Regions from separate parts of the Homo sapiens genome. Here regions 2 and 3 are each linked to region 1. Evidence: fine-mapped expression QTL. A gene starts in region 1. Each other region holds a variant in brackets. All regions are shown on one strand. Distances are from middle to middle.

Region 1 (5,000 bases):
GGATTTTTTTGAGAATTTACCCTTACATGCTGATTCTGCTTCAGGTATCTGTAGTATGTTTTGTTCAGCCATTAGCAGATCTGTCCCTGGAATCCCTAATCCACAAATATACACAAAATTTGGGTTCAAGCAACTCTATTTTCTCCTATATCTTTTAATAGATATATTATCTATTATGCCAGGTATGACAATATATAAACAAAAATATCCATATAAAAATTACAATATTACTAAATGTCCTTCTAAATCCACACTTAAGCAACAATAACGAAGCACAGTTTCTTAAAGTAGAAAATGATCTATAGTTAATCTTATTATCTTGCCTCCTTTACCTTTCAAAAATCCACTGATAATCTGGGCATGATGCTTTCAAACTTCACCCTAAAGAGAAAAATGCTCTCTGAACACTCTTCTTCCTGCTGTCTTTAAATTGTGCCTGTATTTTCTCTGCTTTTCCTTTGACACTCAATCACTCCTTTAAAACTTGTAAAAAACCGGAAAAGTTTCTGTAACTCTCCAATCTCCAACTATGTCGTAAAATCCCTTGCCAGTTTACCCAGTCTGCTGGAGAGGCTCACCGTTTCTTTTTCGAGCGAATTACACAGTTGTCTTGGCAGCGTGATTTGCCCTCTGGTTCCTGCTTTATCAGTTTGGTGATTCTTTGTACAGATTGATAACCATGAAAAAGTCTAAAGTAGGGCAGTTCCGGAGCAGCCTTTTCCCATAAAGCAAGCGGGTACCTCACAAAACTCCAGGCAAAAGAATGAATGATAGAGCACTCACCAATAGCGAGTGGAGAAGAGTATTTTGTCGAAGTTTGCAAACCAATCTTTGGGAGCCAGAGGTGGGAATTTTAAAATGAGGTCTTTTCCTTGGAATTTTCTTAAAGTGGTATCGTTGCCTGTTGATATTGAAGTTTGTCAAAGAACGTGAAATCACCAGCTTAGAGGATTTTTTTCCCCTTTAAGAGAGACAAAACGTGCGAATTGATTCTCTACAAATTGTGAGAACTTCAAGAGTGGGGTCATAAAGTATTATCAAATATAATCACTTGGTAACTTTTGTGTCAATGTGGGGAGGAGGTGAAGGTTATTTTAACATGATTCATTTTTCATGATCAAATATCAGATATTAATCACTGAAAAACAGTATTCCCCATTAAAAAAAAGAAATGAAAACTAAGAGGCTAACATTGTTTTCAAAAAACTGTTCTACTGTTAATCTTTTTTCTTTTTTGGGGGGTGTAACTCTTCATATATTAGCAGCAAGTCTTATTATTTGGGCTGACCATTAAACACCGTATCTTTGTTTTTACACAAAATGTGGATTTCCTCATTTTAAGACCAGCAAAAAATTTCTGAGTGCCACGAATTCTTAGGTATTCCGAAACTATCTTAGAAATACATGACATATACCAACCATGCTGTATACCTGAATAGCTCTTGAAGACCAGATTTAATAGATAACTGATAATTTTTATTATAACTCATACCTTGTTTTAAAACCAATGTTTTTTATTTAATATAACTCTGCTTTCTAGGTTATTCGTCTCTATGAATAATTAAGTCAGCAACTGTAAAAACTACTTCATTATAAAGTTAAAGTTCCTTGACAAGGAGCCTCGCAAACTCATAGACAGGCTTTCCACAGAACAAAAAATATCAGCGGTTGTAGTAGAGGATTATACTTTAAAATCTTCATTTCAGAAGGAAATTTGTCATATTAATGAGACACTTTAAAAAGTGTCTTTTAAAAATGTTTCCGAACTATGCTTCCAAGTATTTTTAACAGCATAAAGCCCTCTTTCATGCTATTTCGCTGACATAATAATTTTCGTCTTGAAGAAATACATATTGACGGCCTACTCAGTCAGGCTAGGAAGTGTCATTGTATTTAACTCTCTAAATTGTTCCTGACCTTTTTAGCAATCTTTACTCAAAATAAACCTTGGGTGTTTGAAGGGCAGAGACTAGGTTACGTCCTCCTCATCTTTGTTATCTACCAGTTCGTAGTGACCCCTTAAATCCGGTGCTTAGACTCACTACTTGCTAAATAACGTTGGCTTCGTTACATAAACCCACTGGCCTGTTTTTCAACGGTCAGACTGGCGCTGTTAGTCCCTGTGTCATGGGATTGCTGTCAAGGGTTCAACGAGATAATCTATAAACAGCTCTTAGAACGAACGCTCAACGTGGGATCATTGTTGTAATCCCTCAACGTGTGCTCTGAATGAGAAGCCGAGTGACTGAATGAATGTATGAATGAAGGAACAGGTCAGTAACTGGCGGTTCCCGAAGTTGGAGCCGACTAAATTACCCCTTCAAGACGCTAAGCAAAAGCCACTCCGTCGACATCAAACCCCACGCCGGAGCCGGAAGCAAGAGTAGAGCCGCGGGCGGGGCCAGCATAGAGGAAGTAGCGCTCTCGGCCAATACACAGATCGCTTGGCAAACGAGCATTTTCCCGCGCCTATCGTGAAAGCGCGAGAACACAGGGGATTATCGCGAGGTTCCGTGCTCCTCTCCCGCTCCCTCTTCCCCAGCTCCCTCTGGCGCGGGTTCCGCTCCACCCCCGGAGCCCCGCCCCCGACGCCCGGCGCTCCGCCCCGCCCTCGCCTGGCTCCCTGCCCCGCCCCGCCCGCCGTCCCCCGCTTGGCTTCCAGCGCCGCTTGCGCTCCGGAGCGCTGGCTCTGCTGGCGCTGAGGTGAGTAGAGCTGTCCGCCTCGTCGGGTGATTCAAGTGGCGAGGCTCTCTGACCCGGCCCCCCGGCGGGGACGCCCCAGACGTGGTCCTGCCAAAGCGTCCGGGTCGCGGCGAGTGGGACAGCGGAGCCGTCCGGGCCTCGGGTGGCCACAGCTGCCGGGTCCTCCTCCCACTCTGCGGCCCGCGGCCCCTGGGACCCGAGAACCCTGATACCGGGTCCGTGAAATCCCTGCTGCTGGGCTCGCTGCTTCCCAACTGTAACGATCTCAGTGGCTGGCTAACTCGGGCGAAACGGCGTGTGTTTTGCCTAAGACTCTGCCAGTGTTTGTTACCACAGCTGAGAAAATAGCCTTTTACAAATGCTTTTAATATGTAGCTTATAGTTCTCTAATCTCCAGCGTTAGGAAATTGGAATGCGTATTCTACTAAATTGAGTACGGGGAGGTCAGTATAAGGGACTCCTTCCTTTCAAAATACTCCTTAATATGTGTGGAATTTTGTTGAGAGGTTTTTGATTTTTTTGTTTTGTTTTTAATAATAAGATAGATTGGTGTTCACCTGTCAGAAAGCTCGTGTGTAAGTGCAGCTGTATACAGCTGATATTAAGTAATACTATTTGCCTTAACTACATAAGAGGTAGTATAACTATACAAGAGGTAGTTTGCTTAACTAGGTAAGATGTAGTCAAGTGAAATGGGGTAAGAAAATTACCTTGTTAAAGGCTGTGTATGGCCCGTGAATGCATACTGCAAAACTGTGAGCATTGTTGATGCTTTATTGCTATTATTGGCAGTTTTAGGATTTCATTTGTTTAGATTTTATCTCCCAAACAGCCTTTGTAGCAATTTTAACAGAGTGTAATGGTGTTTTTGAGGCAGCCAATCCCAGCCAGAACATTCAGAAGGAAAGCCGTCAGGTTACAGGGACTGTCTTATTGAATCTTCCTTCAGTGAGTGTGGTTTTGCATTATAGGGCGGCGGTGCACACGCTTTGTAGTCAGTCCACCTGCGATGGAACTATGGCATGTTACCCTCTGAGAAACTCAGTTTCCTCCTCTACAAAACGGGCTACATAATGTCTATTGCAGTGCATGGTTGTAAAGATTAGACATCCTTGTGGCATGTAGCAAGCTTATAGGCTCTATCCGTGGTCTTGACATAGTTGGATGAAAAATCAACCTTGCAATGTTCTTCCACATGTCATCAGATATTAGAAGGCCTACTTTAAAATTTTAAGTCCCTGGATACATGTGCAGAATATGCCGGTTTGTTACATAGGTAAACGTGTGCCATGGTGATTTGCTGCACCTGTCAACCCATCACCTAGGTTTTAGGAAGGGTTACTTTTAGTTACTGTGCTAGATGCAGGTATGCAAGCGTGAAGAAAACAACGCAGTCCCTGCCCTCAGGATTTCTAAATAAGTTTCGGAAGGGTTTATTTACAGGCTTTTTGGCTTTATTGACAATAGACAGATGCAACGATAAATATTTAAGTGACAAATTGTGAGGAGTCCTACGAAGAAAAAACAAACAGCCAAGTTCCTCTGAAAGAACACCAGGGGAATTACTTTGGGATAGGGAAGTGATTTTTTTTTTTTTAAGACTGAGTCTCGCTCTGTCGCTCAGGTTGGAGTGCAGTGGTGCGATCTCGGTTTACTGCAAGCTCCGCCTCCCGGTTTCAAGAGATTCTCCTGCCTCAGTCTCCCGAGTAGCTGGGATTACAGGCGCCCGCCACCAAACCCAGCTAATTTTTGTATTTTTAGTAGAGATGGGGTTTCGCCAAGTTGGCCAGGCTGGTCTCGAACTCCTCACCTCAGGTGATCCACCCTCCTCGGCCTCCCAAAGTGCTAGGATTACAGGCGTGAGCCACTGCGCCCGGTCTCAGGAAGTAATTTTTATGTTGAAATCTGGAGAATGATGGGACATTGCTTTCTAGGCTAAGAGGAGACCAGCAAGTGCTGTTAGGGGTTTAGTAGCTTTGAGGATTGGAAAAGCCCAGAAGCTTGGTGAGAAGCCAAGCAGAGTTGCTGGAGAAGTGGGTGGGGGCAGATGGTGAGGCACCCTCAAGGCCTAGTATGAGTTGATTTTCTAAGTAAGAAGTTTCTGAAGGGTTTATTTAGTAAGATGTGTACCGAAAAGAGTGAGATGTAATTGGATGTACATTTTTAAAGGCCCATTGCTGGGATTAATGTGTTGGAAGTGACTAGAGTGGACACAGGGAGACTGGTAATACTGTTGGCCAGGCAGGAGATGACTGTGGCTTGTGGTTTTGGCAGATGGAGAGATTTGGATGGATTTG
Region 2 (5,000 bases), 22 kb after region 1:
CTGGAGTGCAGTGGCACCATCTTGGCTCACTGCAACCTCTGCCTCCTGGGTTCAAGCGATTCTCCTGCCTCAGCCTCCCAAATAGCTAGGACTACAGGTGTGTGCCACCATGCCCAGCTAATGTTTATATTTTTAGTAGACATGGGGTTTCACCATGTTGGCCAGGATGGTCTCCATCCCTTGACCTCATGATCCACTTGCCTCAGCCTCTCAAAGTGCTGGAATTACAGGCGTGAGCCACCGCATCCAGCCCTATTTTTCTTTTATTTATTTATTTATATATTTATTTAGAGATGGAGTCTCACTCTGTTGCCCAAGCTGGAGTACAGTGGCGTGATCTCAGCTCACTGCAACCTCCCCCTCCTGGGTTCAAGGGATTCTCTTGCCTCAGCCTCCAGAGTAGCTGGTACTATAGGCGCATGCCACCACGCCCGGCTAATTTTTTTGTATTTTTAGTAGAGATGAGGTTTGACCATGTTGGTCGGGCTGGTCTCGAACTCTTGACTTCAAATGATCCACCCACTTTGGCCTCCCAAAATGTTGAGATTACAGGCTTGAGCCACTGCACCTGGCCAGTGTATCTATTTTTCTGTTGCTGCTCATGCTTTTGATGTAATAGCTATGAATTCATTGCCAAATCTAAGATTATGGAGATTTACTCCTATGTTTTCTTCTATGAAGTGTGGTTTTAGCTCTTAAATTTAAGTTGTTGATCCATTTTGAGTTAATTTTTGTATATGGTATGAGATAGTGGTCCAAATTCATTCTGCTTTCTTCTGCTTTTTATAGCTTGTATAACAACCCAAATGCATTTAATCTGTGACTTCTTTGAAATGTGTTGTTAGAAGCCAGGATGGAGCAGGTTTTGCCAAACCCTGAGTCCTAGTGGCTTGTAACAGCACACATATTTCTTGTCTACACTGTACTAGTCTCTCAGAGCCTGGAGCCTCTGCCCAGGAATGAAGCTGACAAAACGTCCACCGTCTGGTGGTCACTGTGGAAGGGGTGAGGTCTTTTGCACTCAATCTTGTCAAGGCTTCCTCTTTGGCTTAATTTCACTGACCAAGCTAGTCACTTAGCCATGGCCAGCTTGATGAAAGATGTGCAGTCCTAGCAGGTGTTCGGAAAGAGAAGGAAAGAAAGTAGGTAATGCACAGTGCCCACCAGAAAATACTATTGAACATGGTGGTGTTTGCAAAATATTTGACGTATTTGTTCCAAGTTAAAAAATTTTAAAACATTCCCATTTAAGTGGAGTCTAAAAGAATATGGTAAAGCATCATTGATTCAGAATTTGGGGTAAGTTTTATACTAACTGTGCTTGCTGAAGTTTACTTTTTCATTATTGTAAAGAAAAGTTGTTTAGCTAGATAATAATGTAAATGAGATTTAATGAAGAGAATCCTTGGCTTGATTTAGAGAAACAATTTCTAGGTAATTTAGTAGGAGGTATCTGAGTACATGTTATGTTTATCTGATAAACTTTTCTGTTTCAAATTGTGAAAAAAGAAGGTAATAATAGATTTGAGAAGCACTTTAAGACTATTGCTTTTATCAGGATTTTAAATTTAAAAACATTAAAAAACTTCATAGCTTGTAAATCCTATGGATTAGGATACACTAGTTTGTGTGGCTTCTGTAATCCAACATTAGAGCTTAGTTACCCACAAAGTAACAAAAATTCTGACATTAATTTCTAGTTGTCTAGTCTCTTATATGCTGTACCTAAATTATAGAAGTGTAAAAATTAAAACGTATAACATTTCTCAGCTACATTGCTAAAAATATGGCATTAGAAAACAGAGAGTGATATTATGGAACACCAGTAGGTGTCAGTCACAGCCTGTGCAAGGGCTGATTACTTGCCAGGAGTTTTGGGCATCTATTCCTAAGTGTGTGGTGTGTTTTTTTTTGTTTGTTTTTGTTTTTTGAGATGGAGTCTCACTCTGTCACCCAGGCTGGAGTGCAGTGGCGCGATCTTGGCTCACTGCAAGCTCTGCCTCCCGGGTTCAGGCCATTTTCCTGCCTCAGCCTCCTGAGTAGCTGGGACTACAGGCACTCACCACCACGCCCGGCTAATTTTTTGTATTTTTTAGTAGAGACAGGGTTTCACCGTGTTAGACAGGATGGTCTTGATCTGCTGACCTCGTGATCTGCCC[G/T]CCTCGGCCTCCCAAAGTGCTGAGATTACAGGCGTGAGCCACCGTGCCCGGCCGTGTCTGTGTGTTTTAAGGCGTTATTCTAATGAACTGCAATTTTCTCAAAGTGAATGTGCTTATTTTTAAATAAAAACACAATGTATCTACTTGTTAATAAAGACATAGAGATGCTCTATTGGCAACAGAAGCATTATTTCAGTGCTTAATTGTGTGTAGAGCTACACCTCAAAAGAACTAACTAGTTTGTCATGGAAAGATTAGAATGCTATTTGATGGAGCCAAGTAGACATCCAGAAAGAATGACCGTGGAGTGTGTGAATTAGCCAGATATAGTATTGGTATTAGCAGATGAAACTAGGTGAAGGTCTAACAGTCAAACAGCATTTCTTTTTGGACAAATCTTTCCTTTTTATAGGAACAGCTATAATTAAGGCCCTCCACCCACTGGTTCCCTAGTTTTTCTAGGATGCTTTGTATGTATGCCCATAAACGGAAGCGTATATTCTCAAGGGAGATACTGATAATAAAAACAAAACATTCCAGGGATTTAGACGGATCCACAAGGAACATCTGAGAAATGACTAGTTATGATGGATCTTGTTGCATATATCAGTATAGAAATATGGGGCAAAAAGAATCACAGCTTTCAGCATTTGAAAATGAAATACAAATGGTACTGTCAAGAGTGAGTATTCAAAAATGCTTCCTTGACTTCATAACAATATTCATATTCAATGATACTTGGTTATCACAAAAGGGAAGGATATGTATATATAAGCAGTTTGTGATACTGTTGCTAAGTATTTAAATACATCAGTATGCCAGTATGACATTAATAATGACATTTTCTGGTTTAAAATAAACCAGTGATTTTCCATTGTGTTCAGGATTTTTTAAAAGCTAGTCCTTAGTATAAAATATAAGCCTTTAGTGTTCTGTTCCTTGCCATTCTCTGTAAAATCTCACATCTTCATACCTAATGGCCCAGACATACCAAACTAATGTCATTTGTCTTAGTGAGTGTTTAGATCTCAAATTGTATATAACTGATTAATCAATTGTATAACAGCTTATGCTGCACACAGCAGATCTTAAAATTCAATTTTAATTTTTTCAATTATAAAAGACACATGCTTATTTTTAAAAATTCAAGTTTATGAAAAATTTCTTGGTTATTTAAAATAGTCAACTTTCTAGTACCTAACACGTTAGTTTTTCTATTGACATGATTGTTTTTCTAACAGGATTTTTGAAAATGTAAGATTTCTTCGGGAGTGCTGTTATGTAGTTATAGCAGAATGGATTGTATTTGCAGTTTCCCAATTGTACTTGTTCTCTTTTGGCTTTTCATATGTTGCTTCTTGTGCTTAGAAAGCTATACAGAACTACTCTCCTCTCCATTCCATGTCATCCTCTTATAATTTATGTCTTTTGGAACTCGGGTCAGACCTAATGTCTTCTAAAAAGCCATTCCTGATTCATTATTATTGATACACAGTTTACCCTATAGTAGCTTGAATGTAAATGAAAAAAAAATTAGTTTTGACTCAGTGTGCTCCTTCAGCCTTTCGACTCTTTCTTTTCGTATGTGTAAATTTGAACCCCCTATGTGTGTGTGAGAGAAAGAGAGAGAGATATTATATGTATATATATGCCTATATACTTGTGTGTGTGCGTATGCAGACTGGCTTTCAGTTATTTACAGGAGGCTTTCTCCACTACCCAGTACCTCCAGCAGAGAGAAGCCTGCTTTCAACCTGTGAGTAGACTTTTGTTCTAGGATTCTTTTCATGGAAAGGCCAGCCCTTTCAGGGCTCTGACTTCTTCTGGGTAAAGGACCTAGGTTTGTCTGCCTTTCTTTCTCCTGCCAATGGCCAATTTCCTGGCCCTCTACTCTGATGTCTGGACCTGTGGCCAGGTCTGACACTCCCTTGGACCACATGAGCTCCAGCTTCCCCTGTTCATTTGGAGCTTAGTCAGGTCTTGTACCTGGGGGCCCTGCAGATTTCCCTTACTTTCTCTCGAGGAGCATGATTTGGGAATTTGGAGGATATATTAGTTTTTCAGGGCTGCCGTGACAAATTATCAAAAACTGGGTAACTTAAAACAACAAAAATGTATTCTCTGACAGTTCTTGAGGCAGGGAGTCCACAATCAAGGTGTGATTTGGATTGGTTCCTTCTCAGGGCTCTGAGGGAGCACATGCTCCTTGAGTTTCTCCTTGCTGGGAGTGGCCGGCAACCTTCGGTGTTCCTCAGCTTCCAGTTACATCACTCCAGTTTCTGGTTCTTCCCTCTCTCTGTGTCTGTGAAGCACATTTTTATTTCTTCCATGACCATGGATTATGAGGTTTGTGGTTTCTCTAAGGCAGGGGTCCCCAATCCCTGGGCCACAGACCTGGTACCTGTTAGGAACGGGGCCGCACAGCAGGAGGTGAGTGGCAGGCAAGCAAGCGAAGCTTCATCTGTATTTATAGCCACTCCCTGTGGCTTGCATTACCGCTTGAATGCCACCTCCTGTCCCATCAGCAGCAGCATTAGATTCTCATAGCACAAACCCTATTGTGAACTGCACATGTGAGTGATCTAGTTTGTGCACTTGTTATGAGAATCTAGTGCCTGACGATCTGTCACAGTCTCCCGTCACCCCCAGATGGGACCATCTAGTTGCAGGAAAACAAGCTCAGGGTTCCCACTGATTCTTCATTATGGTGAGTTGTATAATTATTTCATTATGTATTACAATGTAATAATAATAGAAATAAAGTGCAAAATAAATGTAATGCGCTTGAATCATCCCCAAACCACCCCCACAACCTTGTCTGTGGAAAATTTGTCTTCCATG
Region 3 (10,834 bases), 700 kb after region 1:
TCCCCACAATGAGAAGACTAGCTGAGAGGACCCCTTTTGATGTTCTGACACAGCCCACGAGCAGCTGCAGCAGCGTGGGGTTCCAGGTCACAGGTGACAAGAGCAAATGTGGAGCTTGGGCCCTGGACTCAGGGTCTTGAGAACGAACTGTGGCACCTGGGTCTTGGGGTACAGGTTCAATCTCTGAAGGAAGGGTTGCATGCAGACTGCCCACAGAGCCAGAGTCTATAATCTGAGGCAACTCCCAGCAGCTTGAACCCAGGCGGCCGGGTTGTAGCTGTGACTCCGACTCTAGGGGTTAGGGAATAGCACTGGCCTAGCTTCATAGAAGAAGGGGAGCTCTGGAGGTGTGAGCCTGGGCATCAGGGGTACAGCTGCAATTCAGGAACCAGAGCCAATAGGGTACAATGGCAACTCAGGCGTAGGGGGGATGAAACACCATGTAGTCATGACTCTGGACCCTGGGATGGTGGGAAATGGGAGGCTCGGTAAGGCAAGGTGAGGCTGCAACAAGGATCTCAGATTAGCAGAGTTCAGCTTTCACTTGGGTCCACAGCGCCAGTTGGGGAGGGGGAGGCAGGGAGAAGTACGACAATGGCACTATTCCTTGTGAGTGAAATGTCTCAGCAGCTCAGACTCTAGGGGTGAGTCCAGTTCCAGAGAAGCAAGGTACTACAGTTATTTGCCCAGTAGGATGGGGTGTCGCAGCTTAGCCACTGCCCTATTTCCCTGGGACACAGGGGACCATGTCAGTTCATCCCTGGGATGTGCCACTGCTTAGCTTGGCCAAGGCATTAATTACACCGGAGGTGATGCACCATTTCAGCTGAGGCCTGGGGAGTGTGGCTGCTCTGGGCAGTCAGGGCACCATTTGCTGGAATGCAGGGTGCCACTTCAGTTCTGGCCTGGAGAGTATGGATGCTCTAGACAGCCAATGTAGCATTTCCCCAGGATGCAGTGTGCCACTTCAGCTCAGGCCTGGAGGGGCAGGGCACAGTAGCAACTGGGAGTGGTAGATGAAGTAGTTCTACAGTAGCATGGCCGCATGGGGTAGGGTGTAGCAGCAGCTCTTCTCAGGGATGGCAGACCACCAGGCAGGGATGGCCCAGTGGTGTCAAGGCCTCAGGGATGGAAAGGTGCTGAGGGTGCTGTGATCACTCACTCCTGGAGCAGGACACACTCCAGCAGTGATTCTGGTTCCAAGATGTCATAGCACAGTAGCCAGGCCACTGGAGTGGGACACAATGTTGACTCCTTCTCTTGGGGGAGCACAGCTGTGTGAACTCCAGGCAACTCCCTAGGCTGGCCTTAGTGCCTGTGAGAACTACAGGTGTCCAAGGTGATAATGGAGGCTGATGAAGTTCTTACCTTTTCTCTGTAGGAAATAGTCCCTCCTAGTTTTTAGTTGATCCCAACTGGGAAATGGGGTGGCAGAGGTGAGCTGTGTTCCTTCCTTTCTCCGTGGGGCAATAGTGGGTTTCTTTGCTCTACAGGGTTTCTGCTACTCCTTTGATGTACTTTGGTGCCCTCCTTTAGTTATTTTCATCAAAAAGTGGTGGTTTGTTTGTTGTTTTGGCTGTCTTTGTGGGTGGATGAGTGCGAGGGTCTTCAGTCAGTCATCTTGCTGATGTTACTCTAAAACTTCGCTTCTGTTCCTAGTGTGTTGTGTTTTTATCATGAAAGAGTGTGGTGTTTTGTCAAGTACTTTTTCTGAATCTGTTGATGATTATGCTTTTCCCCCTCCTTTTTTTGGTTAATATTTAGTTTCTCTCACTTCTATTGGTATCTTATATTATTAAATTAACATTATCTGATTAATATGTGGTATGCAGAATAATGACAACTCAAAGAGGCCCAAGTCCTAATCTTCAGAACCTATAAATATATTATCTTATGTGGTAAAAGTAACCTGTAGATGTTAGGTTAAGGTTCTTGAGGTGGGGAGATTTTCTTGGATTATCTGGGTGGAACTAATGCAATCACAAGAGTACTTATAGAAAAGATATAGGAAAATCAGAATCAGAGAAGATGATGTAATGATAGAAACAGAGTTTTAAAGATGCTATCTAGTTTGTGTCACCAGATTTATGGTAACTTGTTACAGCAGCCATAGGAAACTAAAGCAATTACATTGGTTGATTTTTCATATGTTGAACCAAGGTTGCATTCCCAGGATAAATCCCACTTGGTCATAGTGTTTAATTCTTGTAATATACTGCTATATTCTGTTTGCTACTATTTTGTTGAGGACTTTTGAATCTATACTCATAGGGACATTTTTCTTTTTTTCTTTTTTTTTTTTGAGACAGGGTCTCATTCTGTAATGCAGGCTGGAGTGCAGTGGCATAATCATAGCTCACTGCAGCCTTGAACTCCTGGGCTCAAGGGATCCTCCCACCTCAGCCTCTAGAATAGCTAGGACTACAGACATGTACCACTACACCTGGCTAATTAAAAAAATTTTTTTGTAGCGATGGTGTCTTGCTATGTTGCCCAGGCTTGTCTCAAACTCTTGACCTCAAGCAATCTTCCTGCCTTGGCCTCCCAAAGTGCTGGGATTACAGGCATGAGTCACTGTGCCCAGCCTCATGAGGAATATTGACCCATAGTTTTCTTTTAATGACTTTGTCTGATTTTGGCGTCAAGGTAATATCGGCCTCATATAATGAGTTGAAAAATGTTCCCTTATTTTCTATTTTTGGGTAACTTGGTCAAAGATTAGTTAGCTCATAAATAGTTTGGTAGAACTCACTAGTGAAGCCGTTTGGTCCTAGCCTTTTTCTGTGTGTGTTGAAAGTGTTTTGATTACTGACTCAATCTCTTTACTTGTCATAATCGATTCATATTTTCTATTTTTTCTTGAAGTAGTTTTGGCAATTTTTACCTTTCTAAAAATTTGTCAACTTCATCTAGATTATCTAATTTTTTGGCATTCAGTTCATAATATTCCCTTATATCCTTTTTATTTCTGTAAGTTTGGTAGTAATATCATCTTCATTTCTGGTTTTAATACTTTGAGTCTTCTTTTCTTTTTTGGGCAACATAGCTAATAGTTTGTCATTTGTGTTGATTTTTTTAAAATAATTTTTATGGTCATTGATTTTTTTCTCTCATTTTTCTATTTCCACGCTTATTTTTATTATTCAATTTCTTATGCTTGCTTTCAGTTTAGTCTGTACTTCATGTCCAGTTTCTTAATGTTGAAGGGTAGGTTATTTACTTTTTTTGAAGTGAAAGCTTGTGTAGCTAAAAATATCTCTTTGAGCACCGTTCTAAGTGCATTCAATAAGTTTTGGAATGTGTCTTCATTTTCATTTATCTCAAAGTATGTTCTAATTTTCCTAACACTTTCTCCTTTGATTCATTGGTTATTTAGGAGTATGTTGTTTAATTTCACATATTTGTGCATTTCCCAAATTTCTCTCTATTATAGATTTCTAATTCCATTATAGTTGGAGAACATGCTTTGTATGATTTGAATCCTTTTAATTTACTGAGACTTGTTTTATGGCCTAGCATATGGATAATGTTCCCTATGCACTTGAGAAGAATGTGTATTCTGATATTGTTGGGTGGAGTTCTATAAATATCTGTTAAATATAGTAGATTGATGACATTGTTCAACTGTTGTATTTTATAAGTTTGTAATTGTTAGATTGTCTTGATGGATTGACCCTTTTATCATTATAAAATTATTTCCTTGTCTCTAGTAACAATTTTTGACTGAAAGTCAATTTTGTCTGAAATAATTATAGCCACTCCAACTCTCCTTTGGTTACTGTTTGTGTGGCACATCTTTTGCTATCCTTTTATTAATTCTTTCAACCTATATGCGTCTTTGAATCTAAAGTGAGTCTCTCATAGATAACAGTCGGATCATGTTTTTATTTTAAATCCATTCTGACAATCTATGCCTTTTAATTAGAGAGTTTAATACATTTATATTTAATTTAATTACTGATAGGGTAGAATTTATGTATGCCATTCTGCTGTTTGGTTTTCTATTAAGTCTTATATCTTTTTCTTCTTCAATTCCATCATTACTGCCTTTTCTGTTAAAAAGATATTTTCTATGTACAATCTCAATTCCCTTGTTTTTTCTTTAACAATATATTTTTGAGTTATTTTCTTAGTGGTTGCCCTGGGAGTTTACCATTAACGTCTTGATTTATAGTAATCCAGTATGTAATAATATCAACTTAATTTTAATAGTATACAAAAACTTTGTTACTATATAGCTTTGTTCCCTCCTCCATCTTCATGCTCTTTTTAAAAATAATGTATTATATCAACTAGTCATTATATATATATATATATATATATATATATATATATATATATACATTTTTTTTTTTTTTTTTTTTTTTTTTGTCTTGCTCTGTCGCCCAGGCTGGAGTGCAGTGGCACAATCTCAGCTCACTGTAACCTCTGCCTCCCGGGTTCAAGCAATTCTCATGCCTCAGCCTCCCAAGTAGCTGAGATTACAGGCTCCCACCACCGTGCCTGGCTAATTTTTGTATTTTTAATAGAGCCAGGGTTTCACCATGTTGGCCAGGCTGGTCTCAAACTGACCTCAAGTGACCCGCCTGCCTCAGCTTCCCAAAGTGTTGGTATTACAGGCGTAAGCCACCACACCTGGCCCATTATAGGTAATTCTTAAAACAACCTGAAAGTTAGGTATATTTATTCTCATTTTATAGATGATGAAATTGGCAGATAGTGTAGTTAAGTACCTTCTCTAAGGTATAAATGCTTAAAAAAGGGATGACTGAGATTCAAGCCCAGGTTTTCCTTACTCAGTTTATTTTTACTTTCAACCACAAGTATCTCTTCCTCTATTTCCCATCTCTATCATAATGACTTGGCAAACCTTACCTCTTCAACTTCTGCCAGGCTATGTAAGGTTAGAAGTTTCTTT[CT/C]TTTTTTTTTTTAACACCAAAGTTTCTCTCTCATGTAATAGTGAAATGCAGGGTGTCTATAGATGATACAGAGTTTCATGATATTGGGGTATAGATTTTTTCTCATTGCTCTGGTAGTTTCTTTTAAATCTCTTTCCTTTGATATCTACTGTAATAGGAATTTTTTTTTTTTTTTGAGATGGAGTCTTGCTCTGTCACCCAGGCTGGAGTGCAGTGGCACGATCTTGGCTCACTGCAAACTTCGCCTCCTGGGTTCAAGCAATTCTTTGCCTCAGCCTCGCAAGTAGCGCCCACTACCACACCTGGCTAATTTTTGTATTTTTAGTAGAGATGGGGTTTCACCATTTTGGCCAGGCTGGTCTTGAACTCCTGACCTCATGATCTACCCACTTCGGCCTCCCAAAGTGTTGGGATTGCAGGAGCGAGCCACCGTGCCTGGTCAATAGGACTTCTTAAAAATGAATTAATATTTTATGTTGAAAATTATAAATATTTATGGTATATAACATGATTTGAAATATATACACGTTGTAGAATGGCTAAATTTAGCTAATTAACATGCATTACCTCATGTATTTTTTTGTGGTGAAAACACTTAAAATCTATGTTCTTAGTGATTTTTGAATATACAGTACATTGTTAACTATAGTCACCATGCTGTACAACAGATCTCTTGAACTTATTCCTAATGTATATCTGAATTTTGCATGCTTTGACCAACATCTCCCCAACACCCCATACCCCAGCCCCTGGCAAGCACCATTATATTCTCTGCTTCTATGAGTTCAACTGTTTTAGTGTTTTTTTTTTTTTTTTTGAGACAGGGTCATGCTCTGTCACCCAGGCTGGAGTGCAGTGGCACGATCTTGGCTCACTGCAATCTCTGCCTCCCAGGTTTAAGCAATTCTCCTGCCTCAGCCTCCCTAATAGCCGGGAGTACAGGTGCTTACCACCACACCTGGCTAATTTTTGTATTTTTAGTAGAGACAGGGTTTCACCATGTTGGCCAGGCTGGTCTCGAACTCCTGATTTCAAGTGATCTGCCCTCCTTGGCCTCCCAAAGTGCTGGGATTACAGGCGTGAGCCACAGCACCTGGCCTAGATTTCATGTGTGAGATCATGTGGTATTTGTCTTTCTGTGTTTGGCTTATTTCACTTAACATATCTTCCAGGATCATCCATGTTTTTGCAAATGACAGAATTTCCTTCTTTTTAAGGTTAAATAGTATTCCATTTTGTATACACAGCCACATTTACTTTATTCATCTGTTGATGGACACTTGGGTTGTTTCTCTATCATGGTCTTTGTGAATAATGCTGCTGTGCACATGGAAGTGCAGATATCTCTTTGACATATCGATTTCCTTTGTATATATATCCAGTGGTAGGATTGTTGGGTCATATGGTAGTTCTATTTTTAAGAAGCCTTCATACTGTTTTCTGTAATGGTTGTACTGATTTACATTCCCACCAACTATGTACAAGGGTTTCATTTTCTCCACATTACCAACACTTGTTATTTTTCATCTTTTTGATAATAGCTATTCTAACAAGTGTGAGATCTCACTGTGGTTTTAATTTGCATTTCTCTAACGTTTAGTGATGTTGCAAATTTTTTCATATATCTGTTGGCCATTTGTATGTCTCCTTTTGAGAAATGTGTATTCAGGTCCTTTGCTCACTAAAAACAAATAAGGTTATTTGTTTTCTTGCTATTGAGTTGCTTGAGTTCTTCAGATATTTTTGATTTAAACCATTATCAGATGTATGGTTTGCAAATATTTTCTCCTGTAAATTGTCTCTTTATGCGGTTGGTTGTTTTCTTTACTGTGTAGAAACTTTTTAGTTTATATAATCCCATATGTGTATTTTTGCTTTTTTTGCCTGTGCTTTTTGGGTCATATCCAAAAAATAATTGCCCAGACCAATGTCATCAAACTTCCCCCTATGTTCTCCTCTAATAGTTTAACATTTTCAGGTCTTACATTTAAGTTTTTAATGCATTTTATTTTTGTATATGGTGTGAGATAAGGATCTAATTTCAATCTTCCATATGTGGCTATCCAGTCTTCCCAGCACCATTTAATTTACACTGTCCTTCCCCTCATCATGTATTTTTGCCATCATTGTGGAAAAAATCAATTGCAAATGTGTAGATTTATTTTGGGGCTCTCTAGTCTGCTTCCTTGATTTATATGTCTGTTTTGGGGCCAGTGCCATGCTCTTTTGATTACTATACCTTTGTAGTGTATTTTGAAGTCAGGTAGTGTGATGCCTCTGGCTTTGTTCTTTTTGCTCAAGACTGCTTGGGCTATTTGGGTCTTTTATGGTTCCATATGAGTTTTAGAATTGTTTCCTATTTCTGTGAAAAATGTCGTTGGAATTTTGATGGGAGTTGCATTGAATCCATAGGTCACTTTGGGTAGTATGAACATTTTAACAATATTATTTATTCCAATCCAGGAACACAGGATATCTTTTCACTTATTGAAGTCTTCCTCAATTTCTTTCATCAATGTTTTATAGTTTTCAGTGTATAGATCTTTGCCCTCCTTAATTATTTCTATTTTTTGATAGATATTATTAAGTGGGATTGTTTCTTGATATTAAGTGGGATTGTTTCTTGATTTTTTTTCTCATATAGGTCACAGTGTATTTCTTTTATGCTCTTATTATAAATTACATTTCTATACATTATGTGTCCATTGACAGAGGCTTGTTTCATATAGTTTTCTCCTATTTTAAAACAAATAGGAGAAAAGGAGTTACAAAAATTCCAGTTGTACTGTCTTTTATATCTACCTATGTAGTTACCTTTATCAGTGCTGTTTATTTCTTCATGTGGATTCACATTTCATTGCCACCTGTCCCCCCTGTCTTCACATTCATTCCCTCTCACTGTCTGATGTATCTTCCTTCCCTACAGTTTCAGACATCCTTCCATTCCACCTGGCAGGCCTGTAAGAGTTTCACTTCCTGCCCATGCAGCCAGTGACCCCTGCTGCCTTTGGAAATCACTGGTTACAGGTTGCCTTTTCTCCCTGCCCTCATCCAAAGCACAATGTGAAGGCATCTATTTCCCAGTCTGTGGGAATATGATCCACTTGAAGGCAAACTGACTTTTTAAAAAATCATATTTCCCATCCTCTCACTAGGAGGCTGAAGCAGTAACCTCTAAAGTGTCTGTTCTACTCTAGCTAATTGCACGTGGCTAGCAACCATTAAACAAAGCAGTTGCCCCCATAAGCAGATATTGGGCTCCAGTAGGGATGCTGTAAAACACAGGGTGGACTTAGTAATGGGTTTCTGGTAGGAACAGACCACCGGGGCTGGCCATTAACACTACGTTACTCAGGGCTATTGTTCATGGACTAATCAATTGTGAATTAGAGTTCTGAGCCATGTATAACTTATTTGTGGCATGGCGTCACCATTAATCATGTTCTGGAATGCCAAGAAAAGACTGAATTGAGTTATGCATTGAAGGTTTAAGGTTTCTTGAAACCAAGCTCACTTAACAGTATTCATGAGTAGATGACGTACTGTGGTAACCGGTCCTTGGTATTAGTCCAATTTCGCAGTGATCCCAGGGGCTAGATAGCTGAGCAGATGCTGAGGTTTCTGGAAAACAGTGACTAGTGTTCGGCATGAGTCTGGGGAGAAACCATATATGGCATATCTTATATTTTCAAAGCTCCAAGTGAGACCAAATGAGAAGGAGAGGTTTAAGATTTCCACATAAAATTCAAATGTTGTATTGGGCTTGGGGGAGAGAGAGAGGTCAGATTTCCTTGCAGTTTGGAACTTCCTTGGAATTCCATAGTACTAGAAACTGACCTTAACATGAGAGTCAACTTTGGAGGGAGAAGACACAAAGCAAGCTCGGAGTTGCAGAGACTTCTAACCTCTAGGTACTTCTTAATGCTCTTGCTACACTATCACCAACAACAATCACACTGGCTACCATGTCTTTGGACCTACTGAGTGCCAGGTGCTGTCCTAGGTGTCTTGCAGACATTAACATATGTAGTTTAACGTTCAGAGCAATATTCCATGGCAAGTTATATTATCCCTATTTTAAGATGGCAAACCATGTAGCATGTGTACCTGTGGCATTGAACACACACAAATTCCAGGTCGGGGGAGTCCCCATGAAGCATGTTCTTGCCACCTCTTCACTGTCTCTATAAATCTATTCTTGGGGCTGGTTCTTCCCCTGACCCTGGATGAAAGTTTTGGTCCATGAATTTTTTTGGTCTCTCCAAGGTAATAAAAATAGTTTCCCAGTCAACTTTCTCAAGTCAACTTAAGTTGCAAAATATGGTCTCGATTCAGTAATAAAACTATCCAGTTTCGTGGCATAATACAACTCTGAATTTCGTTTAAAGTTGAATCTATTCTTTCTCTTCTGGCTTCAGGAGGAAGATTGCCTGGGGGAAGAGTCCACAGTAAGCCTGTTAGAGCTTTCCCCACCTGGGAATTCTTTGTCTTCCATGGGCTGGGGGCAGGTGGAGGGGAAAGGGGACCAGGAAGGTTCCTTCTTGGCAGATACTGATGTGACTATCAAATATGATTGTTCTCTGGGCCTTGCAAGTGCTCAGAGCTAACTTTGCCTCCTAGAGCACGTTCATAGGTGGCCTGGAGATACACATCCATCACCCTGTTATCTGCTGACATCTCTCTCCTGCAGGCTGATGTAGAAGATGGGCTTTTCTCTACTTGCGGTTAGTACTCCTTCTTCAGCTCCAGGGACGCTGGTGGATCACAGCTGGTATTCTCCTATTGTCTCCTCACCACACAGTCCCCTTGGACAGGACCTAAGCCACCGCACATCAGCTGTCTCTCGTACATGGCCCCCCACTGTCTCTACTCTGACACACTCTGAAAGTGCAGGCTGATTCTGGTGCAGCTACCTCCCTTCCTCTGCCATCAAAGTAGCTAGGTTGCCTGCTATAGACTGAATTGTCCCCCTGCCCCCCATTCATATGTTGAACCTTAACCCCCAGTGTGACTGAATTTGGAAACAGGGCCTATAACAAGGTAATTAGGGTTAAATGAGGCCATAAGGGTGGGGCCCTCATCCGTAGGATTAGTATCCTTATGAGAAGGGACACCGAGAACTCTCCTTCACTCTTTCTCCAAGAGTGCTCAGAGGAAAGGCCATGGGAGGACACAGCAGCTGTCTGAGAGCCAGGAAGAGCACCCTCGCCAGAAACCAAGCCCTGCTGGATCTTGATCTGGGACTTCCAGCCTCCAGTACTATGAGAAATAGAGTTCTTTTGTTTAAGCCACTTCTGTGGCTTTCTGTCCTGGCAGCCCCAGCCAACAAAGGGCCAATCTCTTTCCATCTGGATTTCTCAGCTGTGAGCCAGGTACCCATCCACTATGCTGCCTAAACATCTGGGTACGTGTATGGTATGAAGTCCCTTTTGAGGTCTCCATGTAGCCCCTCTTCTTTTCTAGGCCCAAGATGGGTGGGAGGTACCATCTCCTCATTGGCAGGGCTGGAACGAGGCACACCAGTGGCTATCTCCAAAGAAATATTTTAATCACCAAAGCCCAGCTTTTTTACATCCATACCCATGGGTAAGGGGTTTTGGTTTGATGGTTTGGGGTCAGGTATTGTCTTGGGCACATGGTATCTCTGCATATTGATGTCAGTCCAAACTTCCATTTTCACATTGTTTAGTAACCAGTTGGTGAGAAGCTAGGCCCGTGTCTTGAATCCAGGTCTCTCTGACTAGGATTTGTAGTCTTTCCAAAACTATATTGCCCTGACTCTCTGAAATACAACGATTTCAGACTGTAAACTCACGAGGGCAGGGCTGTGTCTGTCATGTCTACCACTGTATCTCTTGACTTCTAACGTGTTTAACACAGAGCCCATGCTATTATGGATGTGGAAGTTGCCACGT

Which allele goes with the higher level. Alleles are on the strand shown, and positions count from the first base shown. SD is a standard deviation of normalised expression in the study named. Not every link is listed here.
With allele G in place of T in region 2, the expression in whole blood of the gene that starts at base 2,643 in region 1 is higher (small effect, 0.32 SD a copy in GTEx).

The links. PIP is the estimated chance that this variant, and not a neighbour inherited with it, causes the effect. A credible set is the group of variants that fine-mapping cannot tell apart.
Region 2: its variant is the best candidate, but not a certain one, in a credible set for the expression of LRRC28 in whole blood (GTEx, PIP 0.56).
Region 3: its variant is the best candidate, but not a certain one, in a credible set for the expression of LRRC28 in whole blood (INTERVAL, PIP 0.67).

The regions. Positions count from the first base shown.
Region 1 is chr15:99,248,839-99,253,838 of GRCh38, forward strand. It overlaps LRRC28 (leucine rich repeat containing 28), which reads left to right and starts at 2,643. Exons shown (of 10, transcript NM_144598.5): 1 at 2,643-2,703. TTC23 (tetratricopeptide repeat domain 23) reads right to left here and starts at 743. Exons shown (of 14, transcript NM_001288615.3): 1 at 333-743. RefSeq lists an enhancer at 2,118-2,167 and a silencer at 2,418-2,957.
Region 2 is chr15:99,271,325-99,276,324 of GRCh38, forward strand. The region is part of intron 2 of LRRC28 (leucine rich repeat containing 28); the gene reads left to right. Among named protein-coding and RNA genes, the nearest start is that of LRRC28, 22 kb to the left of the region's middle. The variant G/T (reference allele first, on the strand shown) is at 2,160.
Region 3 is chr15:99,943,220-99,954,053 of GRCh38, forward strand. No RefSeq gene overlaps it. Among named protein-coding and RNA genes, the nearest start is that of LYSMD4, 220 kb to the left of the region's middle. The variant CT/C (reference allele first, on the strand shown) is at 4,919.